7 linked regions of the Homo sapiens genome follow. The protein of the gene in region 1 purifies or fractionates together with the protein of each later gene. This does not show direct contact. Each region holds a gene or a part of one and is shown in the gene's direction. Other genes may lie near its edges. The genes, in order: BCL2L14, PANK4, SUCLG1, RABL3, PFKL, HEATR1 and FASTKD5.

What was found.
Region 2: the proteins of BCL2L14 (region 1) and PANK4 purify together in Homo sapiens (affinity purification with mass spectrometry, with the first as the bait; one large-scale study listed by BioGRID). This does not show direct contact.
Region 3: the proteins of BCL2L14 (region 1) and SUCLG1 purify together in Homo sapiens (affinity purification with mass spectrometry; one large-scale study listed by BioGRID and IntAct). This does not show direct contact.
Region 4: the proteins of BCL2L14 (region 1) and RABL3 purify together in Homo sapiens (affinity purification with mass spectrometry; one large-scale study listed by BioGRID and IntAct). This does not show direct contact.
Region 5: the proteins of BCL2L14 (region 1) and PFKL purify together in Homo sapiens (affinity purification with mass spectrometry; one large-scale study listed by BioGRID and IntAct). This does not show direct contact.
Region 6: the proteins of BCL2L14 (region 1) and HEATR1 purify together in Homo sapiens (affinity purification with mass spectrometry, with the first as the bait; one large-scale study listed by BioGRID). This does not show direct contact.
Region 7: the proteins of BCL2L14 (region 1) and FASTKD5 purify together in Homo sapiens (affinity purification with mass spectrometry; one large-scale study listed by BioGRID and IntAct). This does not show direct contact.

Annotation. Positions count from the first base shown.
Region 1 is NC_000012.12:12,091,439-12,094,938, forward strand, and holds part of BCL2L14 (apoptosis facilitator Bcl-2-like protein 14), read left to right. Parts: intron 1-3,072; coding exon of another isoform or gene 3,073-3,153; exon of another isoform or gene 3,154-3,225; coding exon 3,226-3,492; intron 3,493-3,500. UniProt on the Homo sapiens protein: Plays a role in apoptosis.
Region 2 is NC_000001.11:2,523,797-2,527,749, reverse strand, and holds the start of PANK4 (4'-phosphopantetheine phosphatase), read left to right. Parts: upstream 1-1,153; 5' UTR 1,154-1,162; coding exon 1,163-1,286; intron 1,287-1,557; exon of another isoform or gene 1,558-2,149; intron 2,150-3,953. UniProt on the Homo sapiens protein: Phosphatase which shows a preference for 4'-phosphopantetheine and its oxidatively damaged forms (sulfonate or S-sulfonate), providing strong indirect evidence that the phosphatase activity pre-empts damage in the coenzyme A (CoA) pathway.
Region 3 is NC_000002.12:84,425,655-84,428,280, reverse strand, and holds part of SUCLG1 (succinate--CoA ligase [ADP/GDP-forming] subunit alpha, mitochondrial precursor), read left to right. Parts: intron 1-2,626. UniProt on the Homo sapiens protein: Succinyl-CoA synthetase functions in the citric acid cycle (TCA), coupling the hydrolysis of succinyl-CoA to the synthesis of either ATP or GTP and thus represents the only step of substrate-level phosphorylation in the TCA.
Region 4 is NC_000003.12:120,704,517-120,708,016, reverse strand, and holds part of RABL3 (rab-like protein 3), read left to right. Parts: intron 1-1,902; coding exon 1,903-2,017; intron 2,018-3,500. UniProt on the Homo sapiens protein: Required for KRAS signaling regulation and modulation of cell proliferation. Regulator of KRAS prenylation, and probably prenylation of other small GTPases. Required for lymphocyte development and function. Not required for myeloid cell development.
Region 5 is NC_000021.9:44,306,553-44,310,052, forward strand, and holds part of PFKL (ATP-dependent 6-phosphofructokinase, liver type), read left to right. Parts: intron 1-128; coding exon 129-202; intron 203-707; coding exon of another isoform or gene 708-776; intron 777-3,500. UniProt on the Homo sapiens protein: Catalyzes the phosphorylation of D-fructose 6-phosphate to fructose 1,6-bisphosphate by ATP, the first committing step of glycolysis.
Region 6 is NC_000001.11:236,601,717-236,605,674, reverse strand, and holds the start of HEATR1 (HEAT repeat-containing protein 1), read left to right. Parts: upstream 1-1,158; 5' UTR 1,159-1,253; intron 1,254-1,547; 5' UTR 1,548-1,579; coding exon 1,580-1,721; intron 1,722-2,298; coding exon 2,299-2,515; intron 2,516-3,958. UniProt on the Homo sapiens protein: Ribosome biogenesis factor; required for recruitment of Myc to nucleoli. Involved in nucleolar processing of pre-18S ribosomal RNA. Required for optimal pre-ribosomal RNA transcription by RNA polymerase I.
Region 7 is NC_000020.11:3,149,866-3,153,365, reverse strand, and holds part of FASTKD5 (FAST kinase domain-containing protein 5, mitochondrial), read left to right. Parts: intron 1-2,498; exon of another isoform or gene 2,499-2,828; intron 2,829-3,500. UniProt on the Homo sapiens protein: Plays an important role in the processing of non-canonical mitochondrial mRNA precursors.

The DNA of each region.
Region 1 (3,500 bases):
AAACCTTCAACAGAGTCAAAAGGGCTTCTCTATGCCTCCTGGGTCCATAACCCACAGACGACTGAGTAGTCTCTAGAATCTGTCAATCAGGGGCTGGCTTGCAGACATAGACCCTTGTTTTTCCAGAATCTGTGGGGAGGGAGTCAGACCCTGGGGGTGGGGATGGGAGGTTCTGCAGGAAGACAAACAGCTCCTGTCTATAGCTTTGTCAAAAGTGTGCCCAGAGGCTGGTGACCCAGAGGGCGAAGCACCTGGGAGATGGGACAGAATGAGAAACAGCGAGAAAACCAGGGATATTAGGTTAAAGAAAAGAGAACGGGGTGTGTGAGCTTTGGGACCACAAGTAGAGGGTGGAGAGGGGTGCAGAGGAAGCAAGAGATGGAACAGGATCATGATTTAAGGGCACCCCTGCATTTCTCCAGAGCTAGTGTCATGGATACACAAATTATGCCTAGTATGGGGTGATTGATTTCTCCTTATGGTAAGAATGAACCTCCATTCCTGGAGAATAGGCATTCCAGGCTGCCCATGAGAGTCAACGGGTGCCTTGTGAGAGAATGATCTTCCTGTCACGGGAAGAATTGCAAGTAGGTGCCAATACCAGTTAGCATTTCAGCACAGAACTCCGAGGGGTCCTTTAGACAACCTCAAGGGCTCTTTACAACTCAGAGTTTCTGTGGCTCTCACGGCAACCTCCTTCCCAGCTTCCCTAAGCAGGGACTTGTGGTCATTGGTCAGGGAGGTGGGAAAGGCGGAGTGGGGGTGCTGGAGGTGGGACGAAGGCCACCGATCTCAGGTTATGAAGAGCGATGGTTTCATTTTCACCCCCACAAATTACCACTTTCAAAAACCTCACTTTGCCTGGTGCTCTCTCTTAAGGAGTTTGGACATTTTACATTGCTTATGGCAAAGCCTTGGTTGTTATTTCCTTTACATGCTTCCCCAGTAGGGAGCTCTGCTAGAGACACATGGTAGGTGTGACCTTGTGCTGGGCGGGTGCCAAGCTCCCACTGCAGAGTGCCGTGTGTGTGGCTGCAGGGGATCTGCAGAGCCGCTGGTCCCAAGAGCACACACAGCCCGAAGGCCCATCCTACACCTCCAGGAGAGGCCAAAGAGCCAGGTGCACCCGAGAGGGACAGGCAGGGGAGGGGTGAGGAGGTGCCAGTGGAAGCCCTGTCTTTGTGGCGTTTGATTCTTTTACTGTTCTGGCACAGTCCCCACTTGGCTGCCTGCTAGGGTTTTGAGCCTGGCCTCCTCCATTGGGAAACTGATGAAGAGGAGTCTGTTCCCTGTTATGGAGGAGGCTGGCCATGCCTCCTGCAGAGTCACAACCCAGACGGGGCCTGGACGGTGGGGGTGGGCGTGGTTCAGGGAAAAGACAGGTCTGCCAAAATCTCCCAATCGCATCTGACTCATCCCCCAGATATCCCTTTTAGAAACAATATTTGTTGAAAACCCGCTTGGCTTATCATTCCTCTAGGACAGAACTAGAGGATTTTCAAATAAATATTTTGTCCCTGCTCACTCAGAAATTTCCGTTTTCACATGACAACCAGCATATTAACAGACATTGCAAGAATGCTTTAAATGAAGATGATATATAGCTTTTTGATATGAGCCCTGATTTTTCAAAAGCAGAAGAGGCAGCATTGATTTTGTTTTAAAGGCGTGGTAGTTCAAAGGAGGTAAAGCAGAGAGATACCAGGTTCAAGGGAAGGCCGGGAGGTAAAATCAATAGGGTAGAATAATGGGAAAGAAATCAATGAATTGGAGTTTTTTTAAGTGAACATTGCATGCAAGGGAGTCTTCCCTGACCTCCATGCTCCCGTAGCATCCTGAAAAATGACTCGCATTTCCAAAGCACCTCTTCTATGTCCAGCACTATAAAGTGTTCAACTACCCTATAGTATAGGGCCAAGCACAGTGGCTCACACTTGTAATCCCAGCTCCTGGGGAGGCCGAGGTGGGAGGATCGCTTGAGGCCAGGAGTTTGAGACCAGCCTGGGCAATATAGTAAGCCTTGTCCCTAAAAAACAATAATAATAAAAGTTTCTTAAGAAAATGAAGGCTGGGTACGGGCACAGTGGCCCACACCTGTAATCCCAGCACTTTGGGAGGCCGAGGCAGGTGGATCACCTAAGGTTAGGAGTTCAAGACCAGCCTTACCAACATGATGAAACCCTGTCTCTACTAAAAATACAAAAATTAGCCGGGTGTGGTGGTGTGTGCCAGTAATCCCAGCTACTTGGGAGGCTGAGACAGGAGAGTTGCTTGAACCTGGGAGGCGGAGGTTGCAGTGAGCTGAGATCGCGCCTCTGCACTCCAGTCTGGGCAAGAGAGTGAGACTCCATCTCAGAAAAAAAAAAAAGAAAGAAAGAAAAGAAAAGAAAATGAAGACTGGGTGCAGGGACTCATGCCTGTAATCCCAACACTTTGGGGAGGCTGAGGTGGGTGGATCGCTTAAGCCCAGGAGTGGGCAACATGGCGAAACTCTATCTCTACAAAAAAATAGAAAAAAATTAGCCAGGTGTGGTGGCATGCACCTGTAGTCCCATCTACTTGGGAGGCTGAGGCAAGAGAATCACTTGAGCCCAGGAGGCAGAGGTTGCAGTGAGCTGAGACCACACCACTGCACTCCAGCCTGGGCAATGGGAGTGAAACCCTGTCTTAAAAAAAAAAAAAAGAAAGAAAACAATTACCCTATAGTATCAATACTATCACCATCCTAGTTTAGAGATGACAAACTGAATCTGAGAGGTTAATTTCCCCAAGATTGCATAGCTAAGTAAGAGGTGGACCCAGGGGTTTGAGCCAAGACAGTGATTCCTAAGCTTCAGATCCTGTCCCTTACACTACTTCTAGCAAAGGACATCACATTTTTCTGCAATTCCCACTAGACTGTGAGCCCTTTGAGTGAGGACCCGCATCTCAGTCATCCATACTACCTGCCCATTATAAGTGCTCAGGAAATATTTGTTAAATGTCAAATGAACTGACTGTTCCATTTTATACATGTATTTGTGCTGATGAAATGAATTCACCGAGCAGTACATGCCCATTCTGGTTCTGCAGGACACTGCCTTCATCCCCATTCCCTTGGTTGACACCAGCATCCAGGGTTTTCCACAGGATGGTTTGATGGCCTGCATTTGAGCTAAAGAATGAACTTCTGTCTGCCTCGTGGAGCCAAGCTACTGTACTGAGTGCTTATTCTTTTGTACACAGCTGAAGAAAGATAAGGCTTTGATGGGCCACTTCCAGGATGGGCTGTCCTACTCTGTTTTCAAGACCATCACAGACCAGGTCCTAATGGGTGTGGACCCCAGGGGAGAATCAGAGGTCAAAGCTCAGGGCTTTAAGGCTGCCCTTGTAATAGACGTCACGGCCAAGCTCACAGCTATTGACAACCACCCGATGAACAGGGTCCTGGGCTTTGGCACCAAGTACCTGAAAGAGAACTTCTCGCCATGGATCCAGCAGCACGGTGGATGGGTAAGCGT
Region 2 (3,953 bases), on another chromosome or scaffold:
ATGGCACACCATGCTGCCAGGGGTCTGAGCTGCCAGAGGTCTAAGCCGCCTGGGGTGTGCTCCACTCTTCCACCCAGGCCTCCCTGGGGCAGGCTCCCCCTCCAGAGCCACACACCCACCCCCTTGGAAGACACAGGCAAGGATGCCTCCTCCCTGAAGGCTTGCCCTGCGCACACAGATGCATTATCCCTGGAGTTTGTGCCGCCCCACAGGCCTGTGCTCCCAGGAGCCCTGCCAGGCAGCTGGTGGCATTCTCCACGTGCAGACAGAGGCTGAGGGCCAGAGACATGCAGTAATGACCCCGGGTTACCCGGGAGGGGCTGATCTGTCTGCTTCCAACACTGGGCTTTTTCCCAAGGCGCCCAGAGCCTCTGGAGAAGACGCATCTCTTCATGCCAGCAGGGCTTCCCAGCCACTCACCCTGGAACCCTGGCCTGCCCCACCTATACCCCTGTCCTGGCTCCAGCTGCTTCCAAGGCTTGTTCCTGCAGCCTCCCAGGCACCTGTCTTGCCCACAGGCAGCCTGCCTGGCTTCCCCCGACCACAGCACTTTCCACGGATCGCCATTACAGCACACATCTTCCCTACCCGCAGGTGCATGCCAGGCTGGGGCTCCTCCCAGGTGGGGCAGGGTTCCCCACTCCTCTGGTTTGCATGGGACTTTTAACATTGAAAGTCCCACGCCCCTGGGAAGCCAGGATTGAGTCACCCTAGCAAAGAGCGCATCACATTCGCCCTGGCGTGCAGGGCCAAGCTTACAGCAGGCACTCGCTGAAGGGCAGGGCTCTCTGACAGTCTGCAGACCCACGTGCCCCCTTAGAAGCAGGTGGGCGGCCTCTGCGGCCTCCCTCAGCAGGGCTCAGAGCACTTGAGTTAAGCCTGTGGACAGCGCGGTAAAAGAACATCAGTCCAGATGTTCTGTGCTGATGCGCGATCTCTGGAGGATAACCGCCCGCCCGCCCGCAGCCCCGGGCCTCTCGGACCCCTGCCCAGCACTGGCCCTAGCTCGCCCTGTAGCGGCCGAGACCTCAGAGGCCGGGGGTGGGGGAGGGAAGGGGCGGGGCCGGCGCCTCATTAACATAATCTATGCGAGGGGGCGTTTGGCAGTCAAATATATGCGCATATATCTCCATGGCTGATGAGCTGGCCGGGCACTTTCAAAATGGCGGAGTGTGGAGCGAGCGGCAGCGGGAGCAGCGGGGACAGTCTGGACAAGAGCATCACGCTGCCCCCCGACGAGATCTTCCGCAACCTGGAGAACGCCAAGCGCTTCGCCATCGACATAGGTAGCCGCAGGCCGGGCGCCGGGCGCGGGCTGCGGGGGCGGGCGGGGCGCCGGCGGTGGGCCGGCGAGCGGGGGCGGCGGGAAGGACGAAGGGCGGGGGCGCGGGCCTCGCGCACAGCCTCACGGGCCTTGTAGTCCGCGGGCCCGCGCACAGCCTCACGGGCCTTGTAGTCCGCAGGGTCGCTGATGCGCGGGCTCGGGGCGACGGCCGGACTACAGCTACCGGCAGGCGCCGCAGGGACCAGAGCGGGGCCTGCCGGGCCTGGTAGTTCGCGCGGCCGTCCTGGGTGGCTGGGGGCCGGGGTCCAGCGTTACCCGCCGCGAGGTGGGAGGGTCGGCGGAATTTTATGTCTTCGGCCACATCGGCATCTGGGCGCCCCGGCTCCGCCGCTTGGCTGGTGGCTGGCCTGAGATTTGGGGTCCTTAGTTCTGGTCGAGACGAGGACGAGCTCGGCGGGAAGCCCTTGGCAGAGTGGCCCCGAAAAGGCCGCGCGTTCCCGCGGCGTGGCCAGCTGTGGCCCGCGGGCCGGACAGTCCGTGCACAGGCCCCGCTCTCTGGAGAGTGGACGCCGGGCGTGAGTTCAGGCGGCCGTGGACGTGGGACCTGGGAACTCGTGCCTCTGGTTTAAAAGCCACCCGTGCCTTCCGTGGCCTTTAAGGCGGCCTGCACTTCTGCCCTGGCCTCTCCAGGGTCCGCTGCAGACCCTCCTGCCTGATGGCTGTGCTCTCAGTAATGACGGCGGGCCAGGCTCTGTTCTAGACCTTTTTCCCACGCTCCTGACTCCCGGACACCTCCCAGCCACCTCTAGGGGAGGAACGCGAATTACTCCCTTTTCGCAGATGAGGATACCAAGCCCCAGAAAGGTGAACTAATTTGCCCAGGGTCATCGGGCTAGAAAGTGGCAGAACCAGGATTTGAACCAGCCACTCCCTGCTCTCCTACTCTGCCCATGTTTCAGGCATGAGGGCTTCCTGGGGGCAGCTTCACCTGGAGAAACCCCCCTTGAATAGCCGCTGCGGCTTCACATACCTCTCCCTCTTAGCACTCATCTCGGTCGTAGGCTGAGTCTGCTTGTGTGTGAATCCCACAAGAGCAGCGGTGTGTCTTGTAGCCCCAGCCCCCGAAAAGGATGCCCAACCTGTCTTTGCCGCCCAGTAAATACTGGGATGAATGGGCCTGCCGCTGACTGCTTCCCACCTCCCTGGAAAAGCTGGGACTCAGAGAGACCCAGGCCATTCCCTCTGAGCTGTGTGCTCCTGGTGCATCTGACATGTTTGCTGCTGTGGTGTCCTCGGGGTTGTTGGTGTCATCATCTCTCTGAGATGTCCAGCCAGGGAAGGGTGTCCTCTAGGGAAGTGGGGGGCGATGAGAATGGAAGTAGCTATAGGTCCTGGCTCCCACCTTTCAGTGAGCTTATGGGAGGCAATGCTTCTTAGGGGGTGTGGCCTGGTGCCAGGTATGAGAACGTGTGAGTAGCATCTTTAGGGACCGCTGATAGGACTTGGGACTGACTGGTTATTGGGCTGCAGGTGCTGAGCTTGCAGCCCTAGCCTAGGGGATTGTCTACCGCAGGCCTCACCAGAGGCTCCCCAGCCATGCTTCCCAGCCTTCTGAGACCTTGAGGCCCGGTAGAGCGTGTGCTCTGCAAGGTTCTGCTGCCCTTACACTGGGGGATTCTGTTACTGGAAGCAAGTCGGGATTAAATGTTTCTGAAATGCAATTGCAGTTGACCTGCATAAGTCACTTGGGGAATGGCCAGGAGAACAGGGCTCACCGTGGATGTTCTGTGTGGCCCCGAGAGGCCAGTGAAGCCGCAGAGCTGGGGCTGTCCAGGAAGGGCTGTCGCAGCCCTAGAGGGCCCTGGAGTACCAGCCTGTTCTCCAGGCTGAGCCCAGGGGGTTTCTTGGTAGAAGGATACTCTAAGAGGTCTGTTTAGTGCTGGTATTTATTTCCCCTCTTCAAAGTTTCTCCCTGCGTCTGGGTCCTGTGTCTCTGGTTCTTAAGAGGACCTGTTGACTGATACTGAGAGACCTTTTGTTTGTTACTCCTGACCGAGCTGCTGGGAGGCCACGCTCAGGGTGGGGTGTCTTCAACCCAGGAACCCTCAAAGCCAAAGTGCTTGTCAACAGTGTTGTTTAAAAGCAGGCTTCTCCCATTTCCTCTTCCCTTGCCTGTGTCTGGATCTAGGAAAGCTCACCTGCCCTGTGTTCTGGCAAGCTGTTTTCCTCTCGATGGGACGCTGATGTCTGCTGAGCAGATTCACCTCTTTGAAAGCAGCAGGGACGTTGTATTTCTCAAAACATACTGCAGCTTCGATCTGATTTTAGGTTTCTGCGGGCTGTGGGGAGGGTTCCTCAGAGGCAGGTGAGACAGGAAGGGGCCACGGGGCGGTGGTGTCTGCTTGGCTGTCCTGCCCTCCATTGGTGCCCAAAGAGGAAACACAGGACCAGAGAGAATGGCAGAGGGGATGGGGCCTGTGGGACAGGGAGAACTAGAAGGCCATGGCTCAGATGTGAAGAGCACAGGTGACCAAACCTCTGGGAAGCCCCCTTCCCCCACCAGCTGTTGGCCTCAGGGCCGAGCGCGGGCAGCCCGGAGAGCCGCCAGGAGGCACTCCTGTCACTGCCTTGCCAGGCGCGGTTTGCTGTGATTCCGAGGGGTCCCTGA
Region 3 (2,626 bases), on another chromosome or scaffold:
ACAGGGTCACTGATGAGATGATCACCTATGAGGGCATTTGTGGGGAGGGTGGGAGGGAGAGATAGAAAAGGCTTATGGGGAAGAGGAAGCTAGAGTCAGATCTTAAAAGTTAAGTAGGAGTTTGCCAAGCATCCAAGGAGGGTGGAGAGCATTCTCAGCAAAGGCACAGAGCTAGAGCATTCTGGGGTTACTGGAAGATAAGGAGAAAGGGAGGAAAGGTGGCAGATGAGGCAGGAGTAAGCAGTGTCTGACCATGTAGCTCCTTGCATGCTGCATCTTAGTGGGAATCAGGGCAGTCAGTCGAACCAGAGTAGCAGTCATTCACTGCCATGTACTACTCACAGTGCAAAGAAAAAAAAAGCCAGTTTCACTTATGAGTGTCCTTGATGAAGCAATGCAAATTATTAATTTTATTAAATTATGACCCTGGAGTCAGTATTTTGTGATAAAATGGGAAGTAAAGCATTGTCACAATTGAGTTGTGAGCTGAACTAGCTGCCCTTTTCATGGGACACCAATTTTACTTGAAAGAATGACTGGCAGACGAACTGGTAATTCAGACAGATCTCTTCTCAATAATGAACAAAGTAAACCTGCTGTGTCAAGGGAAACAGTTGATAGTATTTGTTGCTAATAATAACATTTGAACTTTCAAGTGAATATTTAAAATTTTAGAAAATTTGCATCTGCAACTGTGAGCTTGACAGCTTCCTCCTACCTAGAGGCTTTTCTAATGAGCTTGATGGTGATACTGATAACTGATTTGTTGTTATTAAATGATGAAACATGTCAGCATTTGGAAGATCTGCATAACTCAGTGAACCCATACATATTTCCTAACTGAGGAATGCATGTTACAAAATCACTGTGGTTAAAAGATCACTCAAAGTGCAAGACAGATTAATGAGTTTTAAATTAACAAGGGACAGAAAGTTCACTGCTATGGTTTCAGATTCCAACATTGCACCTAACCTGTAAGAAATTACCACTTGAGAGATTTGGTTAGTATCAAAGAAGAATACTCCCAATTATCTGTAAGGCAGTCATTTAAAATACTTCTGCCTTTTCCAGTTACATATCTGTGTGAGGCTGGATTTTCCTTTTATACTTCAGCTTAAATAACACACTACAACAGATTGAATGCAAAAGCATTTATCAGAATCCATTTGTCTTTCATTAAGTTAAACATTCAAGAGTTGAAAATATAAGTGGTAAAATAACGCAACTCTTCTCACTAGAATGGTTTTTAAAGTGTTAAAATGTTATTTTTAAGTGAATTAACAAATATTTATAAAATTTGTTTTAATTTCTAATATACTAAATATCATTAGATATAATACATATCAACAAAAGCTCTTTGAGATCGTCAATAATTCTTTTAAGTATAAGGGATCCCTAGACCAAATGATCTGAGAACTGCTGGTCTAGGGGAAGATGATGGTACCTAAGTGAAAGCTCTCAGGTTCCACTTGTGCTCAAGTTCTGCCTTTTCAGTCCTCTCTGTTTTACCTGGTTCCTTATTATCTCTGGACTTCTGTTATGAACATGATATTACCATTAATTATGAAACTTAATCATATATTCATATATTAGTTTATGGTATCTTTTTTTTTTTAAGACAGAGTCTTGCTCTGTCGCCAGGCTGGAGTGCGGTGGCATGATCTCAGCTCACTGCAACCTCCGCCTCCCGGGTTCAAGCGATTCTCCTGCCTCAGCCTCCCGAGTAGCTGGGACTACAGGCGCGAGCCACCATGCCCAGCTAATTTTTGTATTTTTAGTAGAGATGGGGTTTCACCATGTTGGCCAGGATGGTCTCGATCTCTTGACCTCGTGATCTGCCCGCCTCGGCCTCCCAAAATGCTGGGATTACAGGCCTGAGCCACCATGCCTGGCCTATGGTATCTCTTAATGGATTGAGGTATATACATATTTTATATTATTTCTTCAACTACTTTGCATGTCTAGAGTACAGACATTTTTATATTTTCTTTTTTTTTTTTTTTAAACCTCAGAATCTAGTATATAGAGATTGTACATTAGAATGGATTTTTGCTGAATAAAACCAATTCTGATCTTCCCTCTTAGACACAGAATTCCAGAGTGGAAAGGGCTTTTGGGCATCAATCCAGTTTGGCCATTTCATTTCATAGATGAGGAAGCAGAAGTCTGGTTCTCAAGAAGCCTTGTCCAAGGTCGTGCAGCTTTTGTTACTAGAAAATTAAGTCCTAGGTCCTTTCCAGTATACTTCCCACCTCATCTTTTTCTTTTAGCACATTTATTAAGGGTGAACTAATAATGAATTAAGGCATAATATTAGGTTGAAGTAAAGCAACCCAGTCTTGTGTCTTAAATTATTATTATCGCAAATCATATTTTCCAGTATGCTCTTTTACTTTTCAAATGATAGCGTCATGTGTATTTGTGAAGTGGAAGTTTTATATTGAACAGATACGGACATTGGCACAGTGTTGTATTCCTGAGTTTGTATGGAAAGTTAACTCAAAGGAGAATGCAGTGGTTTCAATCATGGTTTAATATTTGTGTTGGTTTTCCTAAGATGAATGGTGGGCTTTCCCCTGCCCAAGCCATTTACCATTTACCAGCAGAGTCATGAATTTGAGGTCCC
Region 4 (3,500 bases), on another chromosome or scaffold:
CCCTCTCTAATAGCCTAGGCTAGTAATCCTTCAGAAGGAAATAATGAAGTGTCTTTACTTCTCTCCCTTAAGATTAAGATATATTATCATATCACCCTGACTCCTTTCATCTCAGCCCCACCTTGATTCTTCTAGCACATGTTCTACAAAGCAATAACTCTCAGCCCAAATGAAAGAGAAAGAATAGGGGAAAAGGGTACTCAAATGCCCTTAAAAGCTCAAAAGTCTTACCTAAAGATCCTCAGTAAAGTCTTCCCTGTCCATCTAATAGCCAACTTAGGCCTTTGTAATTCTTTTACTCCCCCGTCCAAAATTCTCACCCATAGTTTTGCCATATTTATAGCCTGGGGAAAAGGAAAGGGAGAAAATATATGCCAGTTTTTTGCCCTAAAATGGAGATTTTATTCTGCTTACCACCAGTCTTTACTGTCAGATTACCTGAGTGCAAATTCTGACTTACCATGTGCCCAAGGACAAGTTACTCTACTTCTCTGAACTTTAGTTTTCTCTTGTGTATAAAGATAATAATAATTCTTCATAGGACTGTTCTGAAAATTAAATTAGATAACACATGTAAAGCACAATATTTAGTACATTAGTACTGAATAAATATTAGCTGTAGTCTTTAATGGTGGTTCTTTATTCCTTTTTTTAAATCTGTGCCACTGATGCTGATTAAAACCCCTCATTGAGGAAGGAAGAGTGGGTACAATTGGATATTAGGGCAAGTGTCAGATCTCTATTAGTTTCAGACACCAGAAGAGATGCAGGTTTATCTAAGCTGGCTGGAACAAGTCAGCTATAGCTTGTACAAGCCCTTTAGTTACACAGATGGCTATAAAAACTGTAGAAGCCAGCTAATTCTACCTCTTCTGCTTTTCTTTTTCAAATTGACACATACCACCTCTTGAAGATGGAGGAATCATTGGTTTCATGTCCTATTCACAATCTGGGTAATATAGAAAAGGGTTGGGAGTTTGAAACCTGTAGTGTTTTGACCATAAGGTGATATCCTAAATTCTAGTGGGCATCAAAGTTTTTCCTCTTTTGTCTATATCTTGCTGTAATAATTAATTCCCTGATTTTCCTTTCTATCTAGGATTTTAATTGATTCTCTTCAGTTGTATTTTAGTGTATTTCTGGGCCTCGTTACATTTTGTTATTTTTCTCAATCTATCAAAATCCGTGCATGTACTTTCTACTATCCATACTTCTTTACTATTTAATGTCTCACCCACTCTCTTATAGTGGCATATTTCTTTTGCTCTAATAACTAAATCTCTTACAGGTAGGAAGCTTACATAACTAATCATTATTCAAAGAACTAGAAAATTAGACATTTGAATAGATTAGTCTCAGATGATCTACAGGACACTATTTTGTCAGCTAAAGAATAGCAATTGTATCAAATCAGTACTATTTTAGTAGATTTTCATTACCTAATATTACTTTTAGTGAGTATAAGTAATATATGTATGTACTGGTATCTATGGCAGTACTGTGTACAGTGAAGAAACAACATAACTTTTTGAATGAATAATTTCATATGTACTTGAAGTAGTTTTGATTCTCTTGATTAATAAAGTGGTTCTACAGGTAGGAACAGGCATGGAGTAGGCACTCAGGAAGTGTTGAATGAAGTAAAGATCTGCTAAAAGTTTAATGGGATTTCGTCAGCCCTTGTAAAATAAAGAGTTATAAAACTGACAGAGAAAGGTTTATGGCTATTTATAAATATTTGTAGAGAAAATTTTAAAATAATTGTCTCTGAGTTGTTAGTCATACTAGAATGCTAGATTCATTAAGCAACCTAATGCTTCTGTTTACTAAGCTTCATTTGGCCAATTGTGAAATGAAGAGGAATTGTTAAGGGATTAACATTGTTTTCTCTGATTATTTTAGGTATTATTTTCGTACACGACTTAACAAATAAGAAGTCCTCCCAAAACTTGCGTCGTTGGTCATTGGAAGCTCTCAACAGGGATTTGGTGCCAACTGGAGTCTTGGTGACAAATGGGTGAGCCAATTTCACAATTGGTTTGAAAGATTGTAGCAATCACAGGAATGTACTTCCCTGAATAACACTTTGTAAAATGTTTGATTTGCAAAGATTTTTCTTTCAGTGTATAGATTATCTTTTCCTTTTAACAGTATCTTTCACAAAGCAATAGTTTTCATTTTGATGAAGTCTGATTACTCTTCTTTTCTTCTATGGATTGTGCTTTTGATATCATGTCTCAGAACTCTTTGCCTAATCCTAGATGATGCAGGTTTTCTCTTATGTTTTCCTCTACAGATTTTATGGTTTTACATTTTTATAGTAAAACATTTATATAAAACATTTTAAGTTTTATAGGTTTGCATTTAGATTTATGATCTAAGTTAGTTTTGTACGAGATGGGAGGTTTTGGTTGAGGTTAACGTTTGCATATGAATGTCTAACTATTCCAGCACCATTTATTGAAAAGATATCCTTTCTCCATTGAATTGCTTTTGCTCCTTTGCCAAAAATCAGTTGACCATATTAGTATGAGTCAACTTCTGGACTCTAGTTCTGTTCCATTGATCTATGTGTCTGTCCCTTCACCAGTACTACGCTGTCTTAATTATAGTCTTAAAATTGAGCAGTATGATTCCTTCTACTTTATTCTTTTTCATAATTGTTTAGCTATTATAGTTTATTTGTTTTTCCACATGAATTTTTAGAATCAGCTTGTCTATATTGACAAAAATTTTGGTTGGATTTTTATTAGAATTGCATTGAACCTATTGATCACATTGGAGAGAATTAACATCTTTATTCTGTTGCATCTTCCAGTTCATGAACACAATATATCTCTAAATTTATTTAGATCTTCTTTTATTTCTCTTACCAGCATTGTGTAGTTTTCAGCATACAAATCCTGTGCATGTTTTATTAGATTTATACCAAAATATTTAATATTTTTTAAGCTATTGTAAATTGTTTTTTTGTTTTGTTTTGTTTTGTTTTGAGACTGAGCCTTGCTCTGTTGCCAGGCTGGAGTGCAGTAGCACGATCTCAGTTCACTGCAACCTCTGTCTCCCAGGTTCAAGCAATTATTGTGCCTCGGCCTCCCAAGTAGCTGGGATACCTGGCTGATTTTTGTATTTTTGGCAGAGACAGGGTTTCACCATCTTGGCAAGGCTGATCTCGAATTCCTGACCTCAGGTGATCCACCTGCCTTGGCCTCCCAAAGTGCTGGGTTACAGGCATGAGCCACCATACCTGGCCATAAATGGTATATTTAAACTTCAGTTTCAAATTTTCCATTGCTAGTATAAAAAAAAATAGAATTGATTCTGAGTGCTGACCTGTATCTTGTGACCAGAGTTTTTTAGTACAATCCTTAGGATGCTCTACATAGACAGGTTTATTTCTTCCTTTTCAATCTGTGTGCTTGTTGTCTTATTTCTTGCCTTTTCGCACTGGCAGCAACTTCCAAAAGGGTACTAACTAGGAGTGATAAGAGTGAATATCT
Region 5 (3,500 bases), on another chromosome or scaffold:
CCACCACCCGCCCTCTGAGATGGACAGGGTGTCCAGGCCTCCCCTACCCCCTGTCCTCTGAGATGGGGAGGGTGTCCAGGGCCTTGCTTCTCAGCGTGGGACTGACAGGTTTGCCCTGACCTCCACAGGCATGAACGCTGCTGTCCGGGCTGTGACGCGCATGGGCATTTATGTGGGTGCCAAAGTCTTCCTCATCTACGAGGTAAGGCCAAGGTGGGCTGTGTGTGTGCAGGGAGTGGGGACCTCCTGAGGCGCATGCCGAGGTGTGTTCTGTGTGGGTCACACTGGGAGACGGGGTGGTCCTGGCCTGGAGGAGCTGATGGGTATGTGGTCTTGGGGAGTGTGAGGGGGAGCTTGGGGCCAGGCCAAAGGCATCTGCAGAAAGAAGACCTACTGCCTTGGGACTCAGCCCGGCTGGAGGCTCAGAGGCTGCAGAGCACGGGCCTGGGGGCAGGGAAGGAGCTGGGTGGACAAGGAGTCGAGGCCCTGCCTACAGTGATCGCTGACGGGCCAGGCCCCACCCACCACACCCCTGCCTGGTGTCCCCCAGCCTGGCCCTTGTCCCGCCCCGAGGCCTCTGTGAGTGGGGGCCAGGGACCTCACCGCCTCTGCCCTTGTCCTCCCCAGCCTCCTGCCTCACCACCCAGACCCGGGGGGCAGCCGCTGGCAGCAGCTCTGCTGTGTCTATGTTCATTGTGTCCCCGCAGGAGCAGCGGATGCCCTACTGCCTCAGCCCCAGTCCCCGTGGGAGATTTGGGGCTCGCCCTCCGTCCTGGGTATTTACACACCCACACTTGCGCTCACACATGTGCACACACAGGCGCATTCACACACTTGGGCCACACCACGCACTCACAGGCTGCATTCTTGCCTTGTCAGGTGGTTTTCCACATTCCACAAGACAAGGTCTTTTGTTATTTTGTTGCCACTTTTTATGTAATATGTAGCTGTTTATATAAAATGTAGCAACCCCAGCTCTGCAGCCCCAGGCACTCAGCCCCACCCCCCTCACTGCTCACTGCTCGCTGCTGACCACTCACCGCCCTGGGTCTCAGTTCCCCCATCTTGGCCCCAGGGAACAGCAGCCTGTCCAGCCCTCCCTCTGCAGGACTGTGTGAATGAATGAGTGAGTGGGCAGTCTGTGCTGGCCCGTCCTCTCCCTGTGGCCAGGCTGGGGCCCTGCCAGTATTGGATTAGGAAGCAGGTCTCAGAGCCCTGGGGAGCTGGGTGTGGGGGCCTCTCTAGGCAGGCTGGGCTGTGTCCGTACAAACCCCTCCTGCCACCTGCTCGACCTTCAGTTTCTTCTTCTAAGTGGCAAAGGGGAGAAATTAGGGTTTTCCGGAACCCCCACACATTTGTGGTTGGGAAAGACTCCTGTGGCAAAAGACAGAAAACAGGTTCATCGGTGCAGGGCGTGTCCTGGAAAAGGGGAGAAGAGGCACTTTGCCGTGCCTAGAGTCCTGGCTTCTGCAGAGCCCAGCAGAGACCAGTGCACATGGAGAAGCCGAGGGGTACAGGGACGCAGCGTGAGGCCCTCGGAGGTGGGGGAATGCAGGAGGGTGAGTTTATGGGAAAAAGAATGAAGTGGGTGGGCGCGGGTCCTGGGGCTGTCTCTGGGTCCTGAGGGCTGTGAGGGGCATTTACATCCTGTCCAGGCGGTAACAGGAGGAGCCTTAGTCTTGGGATGCTGTGTGCTGCTTTCCTCTCAAAGGGAGGCAAGGCTGAGAGCTTCCCTGAATCTGCTGCCTAGTGGGCTTTAGCTCAGAAACATCCACATCTAAGAGGCAGATTTTGAGATGAGACATTCTGATATAGCGGCCCAGGGAAGACTTCCCCTCCGTCCCATGAAGGTTCTTGGAAGAATCCACTTGCGAAAAGCGGATTAATAGGGCAGAGGTGCTGGCATTCATTGTGAATAGGCATGGAGAGGTAGGGCGAAGATGCTGACCTGCCCTCCTCCCAGGGAAAGGGGCATGGGCAGCCTGGATGATTCTAGGGGGGTAGGAATTTTTTTTTTTTTTTTTTTTGAGACAGAGTCTCATTCTGTTGCCCAGGCTGGAGCGCAGTGGCACAATCTTGGCTCGCTGCAACCTCTGCCTCCCAGGTTCAAGCAATTTTCCTGCCTCAGCCTCCTGAGTAGCTGGGATTACAGGCACCCACCACCACGCCCAGCTGTTTTTTGTATTTTTAGTAGAGACGGGGTTTCACCATGTTGGCCAGCCTGGTCTCGAACTCCTGGCCTCTGGTGATCCACCCGCCTCTGCTTCCCAAAGTGCTGGGATTACAGGCGCGAGCCACTGTGCACGGCCATGAATGGTTTTTAGGGGATTCAATGGGCTTGGACAGCATCTGTTAGCCCTGGTGACCACCTGCCCAAGTGTGTTGGCAGACACAGGTCTTTCTTCCTACGATGACCTCAGTGCATGGAAACTCAGGGAGGGGACTGGCCGTCACTGTTCCTTTCTCCAGCAGCTATGGGCTTTAGGCAGATTCGGGGGCTTCAGGGAGCAGCTGCATCCTGAGCTTGGAGGAGGCAGAGGGTCGAGAGGCAGAAGGGGGAGGTCAGGGAGACCTGCGGCTGCGTCAGTTCACATCAGACTGCATTTTGGGTTTCTGAGCCCCCAGCGCTGGCTTCCTTCAGCAGGGAGACCGATCCCTTCTCCTTGGGGCTATTGTTAGGGCAGAAAGGGAGGGTGGCCTTGGAGGTGAAAACCCTTCTCAGTTCTGACACAAAGGAGGGCTCAGAACAGGCTACTCTTATCCCCCCAGGCAGAGCCCACAGCATAGCAGGGAGGGCCCTGAGCCTGGGTCCAGGCCTGCAGGGGTGAGAGGAGGGGGCGGGGCTAGAGGGGAAGGAGGGGAAGGTGAGCTGGGCCTAGGAGGACAGAGACGGAAACAGAGTGGGTAGAGGGGGGCAAACAGCTTCTAGAAGATTCCAAGGGTAGGAGGAGGTTGTGTCTGTGAGACTGATTCCAGCAGAACTGAGCCACTGGCCTTGTGGGGTCTCTGGGGACTGCTGGGCTGGCCATACCTGCCTGCCCCTCCGCCCAGTGGGGCAGGGGCCTGGCTGGCGCCTGGGCTCTGTATTGGATCCTGAGTTTTGCAGACAGACCTGTGTTTGGTGGCCTCCTGCTCAGGTGGGGCTGTGGGTTTGGGATCATTTTCCTGTTTTCCTTGTTCCTAGCTCAGGGCTGGTACAACCAGAGGGGGCCAGGCTGGCCTGGCCTGAGCCGGAGGAAGTAGCTCTGTGGTCCCTCAGATCAGCCCCTGAGATGGGGCAGGGGCACCTGTCCCCCAGCCCAGCTGGTGGGGAAGGGAGGCTGTCAGGCTAGAAGCCCGCCATGGCCAGAGTGGGGATGTTCATGCGCCCCGCAGCGCGCACTATCCCTTGACCCCCTGCCTGCTTGAGGCACTTGCCCTCCTGGCCCCCAGGGCCCTGACACCTGGTTGGGGAGAAGGCGGAGGGAGGAGCAGAAGCCCACAGCTGAGCTGGCATCCGC
Region 6 (3,958 bases), on another chromosome or scaffold:
TGGAAGACGTCAGTTCATCCTAGTTCTAGCGCATACCGGTGTTTTGGAAACAGATTAGCTATATTCATACATAAGGATACTCTTCCGCAACACTATCTGTAGTGAGGCCAAGACCAGTGGTTGCGGGAATCTTCGCAAACAGGCAAGAGACAATTTTTAGGGGCGATGGAAACTGTCATTTTGACTGGGGAGGTCATTACACCTATACATGCATTTGCTAAAAGTCATCAAACTCTTCCACTGACGTGGGTGTAACCATTGTTTGTAAATTATACCTCAACAGGATTCGATTAATTTATTTATTGAGACAGTCTCGCTCTGTGGAGTGCAGTGGTGCAATCTTGGCCCACTGCAACCTCCGACTCCCGGGTTCCAGCGATTCTTCTGTCTCAGCTTTCCTAGTAGCTGGGATTACAGGCGCCCGCCACCACGTCCGGCTAATTCTTTTATTTTTAGTAGAGACGGGGTTTCGCTATGTTGGCCAGGCTGGTCCCGAACTCCTGACCTCAGGTGATCAGCTCGCCTGAGCTTCCCAAAGTGCTCGGATTACAGGCCGCGCCTGACTATGATTCGTTTTGAAAGAAAAAAATATATGCCATTTACCCCTCGGGAATGGAAACATAGAGGAGTGACAAGATCTCCCCCAAGCTCTGGGGCGGTGGAGTCCAGCATTTATAGATCGGTTTGCACTAGGAGCAGAAGCTCCTTTCACGACAATCTCGGCCTCTTCCCACTTTGTAGAGTGAGTAACAAGCTCGGAGAGATGAAATAATTTGGTGGCGTTAACCCGGCCGACAGGCGCCAGCGCCAGGATTTGAACCCAAACCACGTGACTTCACAACCCATAGCTTTCAACACTACGCGGTGCTGCTGGCACCTAGTAAAGGCTGGATCACTACTGAATGAATGATTCTGGCTACGGATCCTTAAAGCCCACAGAAGGCCCATCCAGAGACCGAAAGCTTCAGACACAAGCCGCAGAGCAGACCGCTAAACCGGAGCTACAGAGGCGAAGCTCAGACTTGAGCCTGAGTCCGGCGGGCTGAGGGGCGGGCTTTCGTCTCGGGAGGCGGAGCTGTCTCGTCGCATTCCCGGCAAGCTTGAACCTCTTCACTTGCCGTAGCGCCTGCAGCAGGAAGTTGCTCTACAGCATGCCTTAGGTTTCCGGGTGAGGGTTGGGCTCCTTGGTACCATGTGGGAAGCGCTGTGAAGAGTTGTTGCCTTCCAAGATATACCCAAATTCCCAGTTCCAGGTAAGCGGCACAGAGCCGCTTGATGTGGCTGCGGATGGGGGCGGCATATCGAGGGAGGGTAAGAGTTTTCCGGATATCTGCGGAATCAGGGTTGAAGGAAAGCCTTGGCGCGGTCGCCGCTACTGTAATTAGTTGTTAACGCTGCTGCCATCGTCTTTGCATCTCCGGGGTCCACAAATCTCAGGACACCCGCGTTGTGTGTCCATGACGGTGCTGAGTGCAGAAGAGAATTGTTTGTTTACGAGGCGCCTTATAATTTCGTAGAAACTTATCAAAGTGCTTACGTTTTTTTAGCCCGTGTCATTAAAACTCCGCTGGCGTGAAAGATGACGTCCTTAGCCCAGCAGCTGCAACGACTCGCCCTCCCTCAAAGTGATGCCAGCCTCTTATCTAGAGATGAAGTTGCTTCTTTGTTATTTGACCCTAAGGAAGCGGCCACAATCGACAGGGACACCGCCTTCGCCATTGGTGAGCCATCTTTTAACTTAGAAAAGCTCTTGGAAGCGTTTGTTTTCTGGATGTTACTGTTTTTTTTTTTTCCCCTTGTTTTCTCTTCTGTCCCGTCCTCTTCCTTAGCAGTTTCTAGCATGTTGATGTATATTTTTAAGGGAAAGAGAACATAACAGTCAGGTGCTTGGTGCTTGAAATGTTTATGAGTAGAGGTATCTGGATTTCACAGATGAAGAAACAAAATTAGAGAGGTCAACTAATATGTCAAAGAGAAGAACAGCTAAAAGGGGGATGGAGGCAGTGACTGGGGTGACGGAGAAGTCCTCTCAGAGGACTGGCCTAGTTATTGTAGGGGATATCCAAAAAAAAAAAAAAAAAAGTGTTCCCTGCCACGAAGTACTTTCTGTTCTAGTAGATGAGATAGGATTTACTCTAAAAGTTGAAAACTAGAAATCAGTGTTTGGGACTGTATTATAAATTATATGTACTTAAAGAATTCAGAAACTTCTTAGGGGTAAGTAAAACTGTAAAAGAGGGGTGGGATGAATTTGCTTACGAAGAATTGTTAAATAAACTGGCCTTTTTTGAAATTTAGGATGTACTGGCCTGGAAGAGTTGCTTGGAATTGATCCTTCCTTTGAGCAGTTTGAAGCACCGTTGTTCAGTCAGCTAGCAAAAACCTTGGAGCGAAGTGTTCAGACCAAAGCAGTAAACAAACAGTTGGATGAAAACATTTCATTATTCCTTATTCACTTGTCGCCTTACTTCCTGCTTAAGCCAGCACAGAAGTGTCTGGAGTGGTTGATTCACAGGTAGCTAATAGAATTACAGAAATAACTATGGGTTAATCACTTTGGTCTTGTAAAAAATTAAGTAGTTGAGAACTTATCAAATTAAAGCTGAAAAATTAGGTATATTAAGAGATTGATACAATGTCCATTGTGTGAGATAAGCATGCTCTTCTGCCTTTAAATTCTTTTTTGTTGATAGTGAAAAGTAGAACTACTGGTGATTTTGAGTAAATGGTCTAACCTCATTAGTTTTTTTTTGAGATAGAGTCTTGCTGGGCACTCAGGCTGGAGTGCAATATTGAAATCTTGGCTCACTGCAACCTCTGCCTCCCAGGTTCAAGTGATTCTCCCACCTCAGCCTCCCAAGTAGCTGGGATTACAGGCACCTGCCATAATGCCTGGATGAGTTTTGTGTTTTTGTAGAGATGGAGTTTCACCGTGTTAGCCAGGCTGGTCTTTAACCCCTGACCTCAGGTGATCCACCCGCCTCGGCCTCCCAAAATACTGGGATTACAGGTGTGAGCCACCTCGCCCAGCCTAACCTCGTTAGTTCTGAAGAGCCCATGCTACTTTGCCATTACAGCTTGTTCCTGCACACTTGAGGCAGTGAGTACTAAGCTGCTTTCTTGGCAAAATAACAAGATGGTTGGGGAAGCAGGCAATGTTATCCTCTGAAATACCATTGCTTGAGAAAAACAATGATAGCTAATGTGTTTTTGAGCATTTATACACTAGGCCCTGGTAAGCACTTTATCTGCATTATCTCATTTAATTCTCACAGCATTCCTCTGGTGAGATTATTTGTATTATCCTTGTTTTACAGTTGAGAAAACTGAGGCTTAGAGGGATTAAGTTTCTTGAGTCACACAGCTAGTAAGTGGCAGAGCTAGGATACAGCTGAAGTTTATTTCCAAGGTCTGATCTTTTATCTGCTTTGGGAATTGTCTCAGTAAGCTTAGTTTATTTTCTCACATATTGGTGTCACATCACAGCATACACATTTTTGTTTTATTTATTCTCCCAATATGTATGTCTTTTTTTTTTGAGACAGTCTCGCACTGTCGCCCAGGCTGGAGTGCAGTGGCACGATCTCATCTCACTGCAACCTCCACCTCCCAGGTTCAAGCAATTCTCCTGCCTCAGCCTCCCAAGTAGCTGGGATTACAGGCACATACCACTACGCCCAGTTAATTTTTTGTATTTTTTTTTTTTTAGTAAAGATGGGGTTTCATCACGTTGGCCAGGCTGGTCTCAAACTCCTGACCTCGTGATCCACTCGTCTTAGCCTCCCAAAGTGCTGGTGTGAGCCACCACAGCCACTGCACACGGCTGTCTTTTTATTTTTATTTTATTGAGTGTCAGGATTTCACTCACCCAGGCTGGAGTGCAGTGGTGTGATCGTGGCCCACTCGATCTCCAGGGCTCAAATGATCCTCCGATCTCAGCCACCCAAGTAGCTGGGAT
Region 7 (3,500 bases), on another chromosome or scaffold:
AGCCTTGGCACAGAGGAGGCCCTAAGGCATAGCTCTGGTTATTTCCATCTTGGATCTTAGCCTGTGTTTTTACAAATCAAAAAGTGTCACATGAATTCAAAACACTGGAGCTGCACCAAACATTGATGTTCTAGGAGATGGTTCTTTTATTTCCAGACCACGTATAGTAATTTCATTAAGTACTCTTAGGTAGAATTAATTGAAGTAATTTTAATTATTTAATGTTTTAAAATTAATATCATTTATAGAGATATTTGTTAATTCTTGTTTATGTGCTATTTGTTCCACTCAATATTAGTGTGTACTTTTTCATGTGTTGATGCCTGCCACACATTTATCTTGTAAACCAGCCTCCTTCTAGACAGACATTTTCTGTTTTTCGCTTTACTATGGCACAGCTATTTTATTTAAAAAATGGGACCTTTAAATCTATTTTTTTAGGATCTACTTTTTTTTTTTTTTGAGACAGTCTTGCTCTTTCGCCCAGGCTGCAATGCAGTAGTATGATCTCAGCTCACTGCAACCTCTGCCTCCTGGATTCAAGCAATTCTCCTGCCTCAGCCTCTCAAGTAGCTGGGATTACAGGCGCACTACCACGCCCAGCTAATTTTTGTATTTTTAGTAGAGATGGCGTTTCCCCATATTGGCTAGGCTGGTCTTGAACTCCTGTCCTCAAGTGGTCCGCCCACCTTGGCCTCCTGAAGTGCTGGGATTATAGGTGTGAGCCACTGTGCCTGGCCAGGATCTCCTTCCTCAAATGAGATGAAGACTACAGATTTGAACAGTATATGGCTTTAGTTGCACATTGTGGTGGATTAAATTAAATTCCAAATTCGAAAGTAGGTCTTCCTCTTCTTTTTTTTTGAGACAGAGTCTTGCACTATCGCCCGGGCTGCAGTGCAGTGGCGCTATCTCAGCTCACTGCAACCTCTGCCTCCCAGGTTCAAGTGATTCTCCCGCCTCAGCCTCCCGAGTAGCTGGGATTGCAGGTGCCCCAGCTGCAATTGCAGGCGCCCACCACCACGCCTGGCTAATTTTTTGTATTTTTAGTAGAGACAGAGTTTCACTATGTTGGCCAGGCTGGTCTCGAATGCCTGACCTCATAGATCCACCCGCCTCAGCCTCCCAAAGTGCTGGGATTACAGACATGAGTCACTGTGCCCAGCCAAAAATAGGTCTTCTTAAAAGCCCTGTTCTGTCAGCTGGAGAGTTCTGTTACCTGCTATCTCTGTTTTTTTGGTTCTTTTTTTTTTTTTTTTTTTTTTGAGACAGAGTCTCTGTCACCCAGGCTGCAGTGCAGTGGCACCATCTTGGCTCACTGCAACCTCCGCCTCCTGGGTTCAAGCGACTCTTGTGCCCCAGCCCCCCGAGTGGCTGGGATTACACGCTCATGCCACCACACCTGGCTAATTTTTGTATTTGTAGTAGAGATAGGGTTTCACCATGATGGCCAGGCTGGTCTCGAACTCCTGACCTCAAGTGATCTGCCTGCCTTGGCCTCTCAAAGTGCTGGAATTACAGGCATGAGCCACCACGCCTGGCCATCCTGCTGTCTCTTTTGTTCCCACCTTTCCTGTGCTGTAGTATTAATTGGATTTCCTAATGACTATTTTGAGGACTGTAATCTTCAATTATCATCTAAATATTAAAGAAAAACATTATTTTAGTACTATTTTTCTATAGTTTTTCCAATTTTAATTAAAATTTTTTATTTTTTTAATTTATTTTTTATTTTATTTTATTTTTTAGACAGTCTTGCTGTGTTGTTCAGGCTGGTCTCAAACTCCTGGCCTCAAGCAATCCTTCTGCCTCAGCTTCCCAAAGTGTTGGGATTATAGGCGTGGCCAAGTTTTTCTAATTTTTAAAAAGCTGGCTATCTGCATTTATAGAAATAGTGTGTAGCAGAGATCAGCAGACTTTTTATGTAATAGACCAAACACTAAATATGCTTTGCAGGCCATACAATCTGCCACAGTTACACAGTTCTGCTCTTGTAGCAGGAAAGCAGACATAGACAATATATAATGAATGGCCTAGCTATGTTCTGAAAAAACCTTGTTTACAAAAACATGTGAAGAGCTAGATTTGGGCCCCAGGACATAGTCTGCTCACCCTTGATCTGAACCACAGATTGAAATTTGGTGGGCAGAATGGTCCACAGGTGGTCAGGCATGGTGGCTGATGCCTGTAATACTAGCACTTCAGGAGGCCAGGGTAGGAGGATCACTTGAGCCCAGGAGTTTGAGACCAGCCTTGGCAACATTGTGAGACTCCATCTCCACACACACACACACACAAACACACACACAAACACACACTAACTGGGTTTGGTGGTGTGCACCTGTAGTTTTTGCTACTTCAAGAGGCTGAGGCTGAAGTGGGAGGATTGCTTGAAGTGGGAGGTCAAAGCTGCAGTTATCATGCCACTATACTCCAACCTGGGTGACAGAGTGAGACTGTCTCAAAAAAGAAAAAAAGAATGGTCCACAAGCCACAGTAAAGAACCAAGTGTATAAAAATTTAATGTGAGAGAATTCTGCTCTGATTCACACAGAAATTCATACATATGTTCCTGCCATCTAGAGAAGCCTGTGTAGCTGGGCTACTGGAACAGAGCCACTGACCTGCCCTGCTGTTCTTTGATGAACTAAATGATGATGTGCTATGGGCTCTGGAAGAAAGTGGCTGACAGCAGAGTTAGGCAGGCATTTCAGAAAGTCATTCTGGCACCCTTGGAACTTTTATGGAGTTTTCTGCAGCAACAGCCCTGTCTGGTACATCAGTTGACAACTCAGGTCTCCTTGGGTCTTGCTTGTCAGGCTTTGGCACTTAAGTGGAAAGAAAAAGAATAAGCATTAAGGAAAGCGAGAGCACAGCAGAATCAATTTCATAGTCTCTCATGGTTTCTGCCATGGGAGAAAAATGGGCATTATACTGCTCACAGGCAGAATAAAGACTCACTGGAAACATTGCTAAGCTGCCTTCTCCAGAAGATGTCAGCGGGGCAGTTGCGTCAATTGGCGTTCCCTGAACCCTGAGCCCAGCTTTGGGGTACTCTTTGCTTCCCACCCGTGAAGTGACAGTGAGCAGACCCTCAACCTTCTGCTTTCTCCCACCAAAATGAGTGAGTTTTTTAGTATACTTTCTAATAACACCATTACTCTGTGACTACTCTCTAATAGTGACTCAAATTCTGTTATAAGCTTCCTGAAGAGGAGAGTAGGCATCTTCTAAAAAGTAAAAGAACAGCATTAGAATGACAGAATTTTGGAATTAACAGTTTTGCGCTATAAGAACAGGGAGGGTTATCGTAGGTATAACTAATTAAATCTTTTTTTTTTTTTTTTGAGATGGAGTCTCACTTTTTCGCCTAGGCTGGAGTGCAGTGGCACGGTCTTGGCTCACCGCAACCTCTGCCTCCTGGGTTCAAGGGATTCTCCTGCCTCAGCCTCCTGAGTAGCTGGGATTACAGGTGTGTGCTGCCACACCTGGGTAATTTT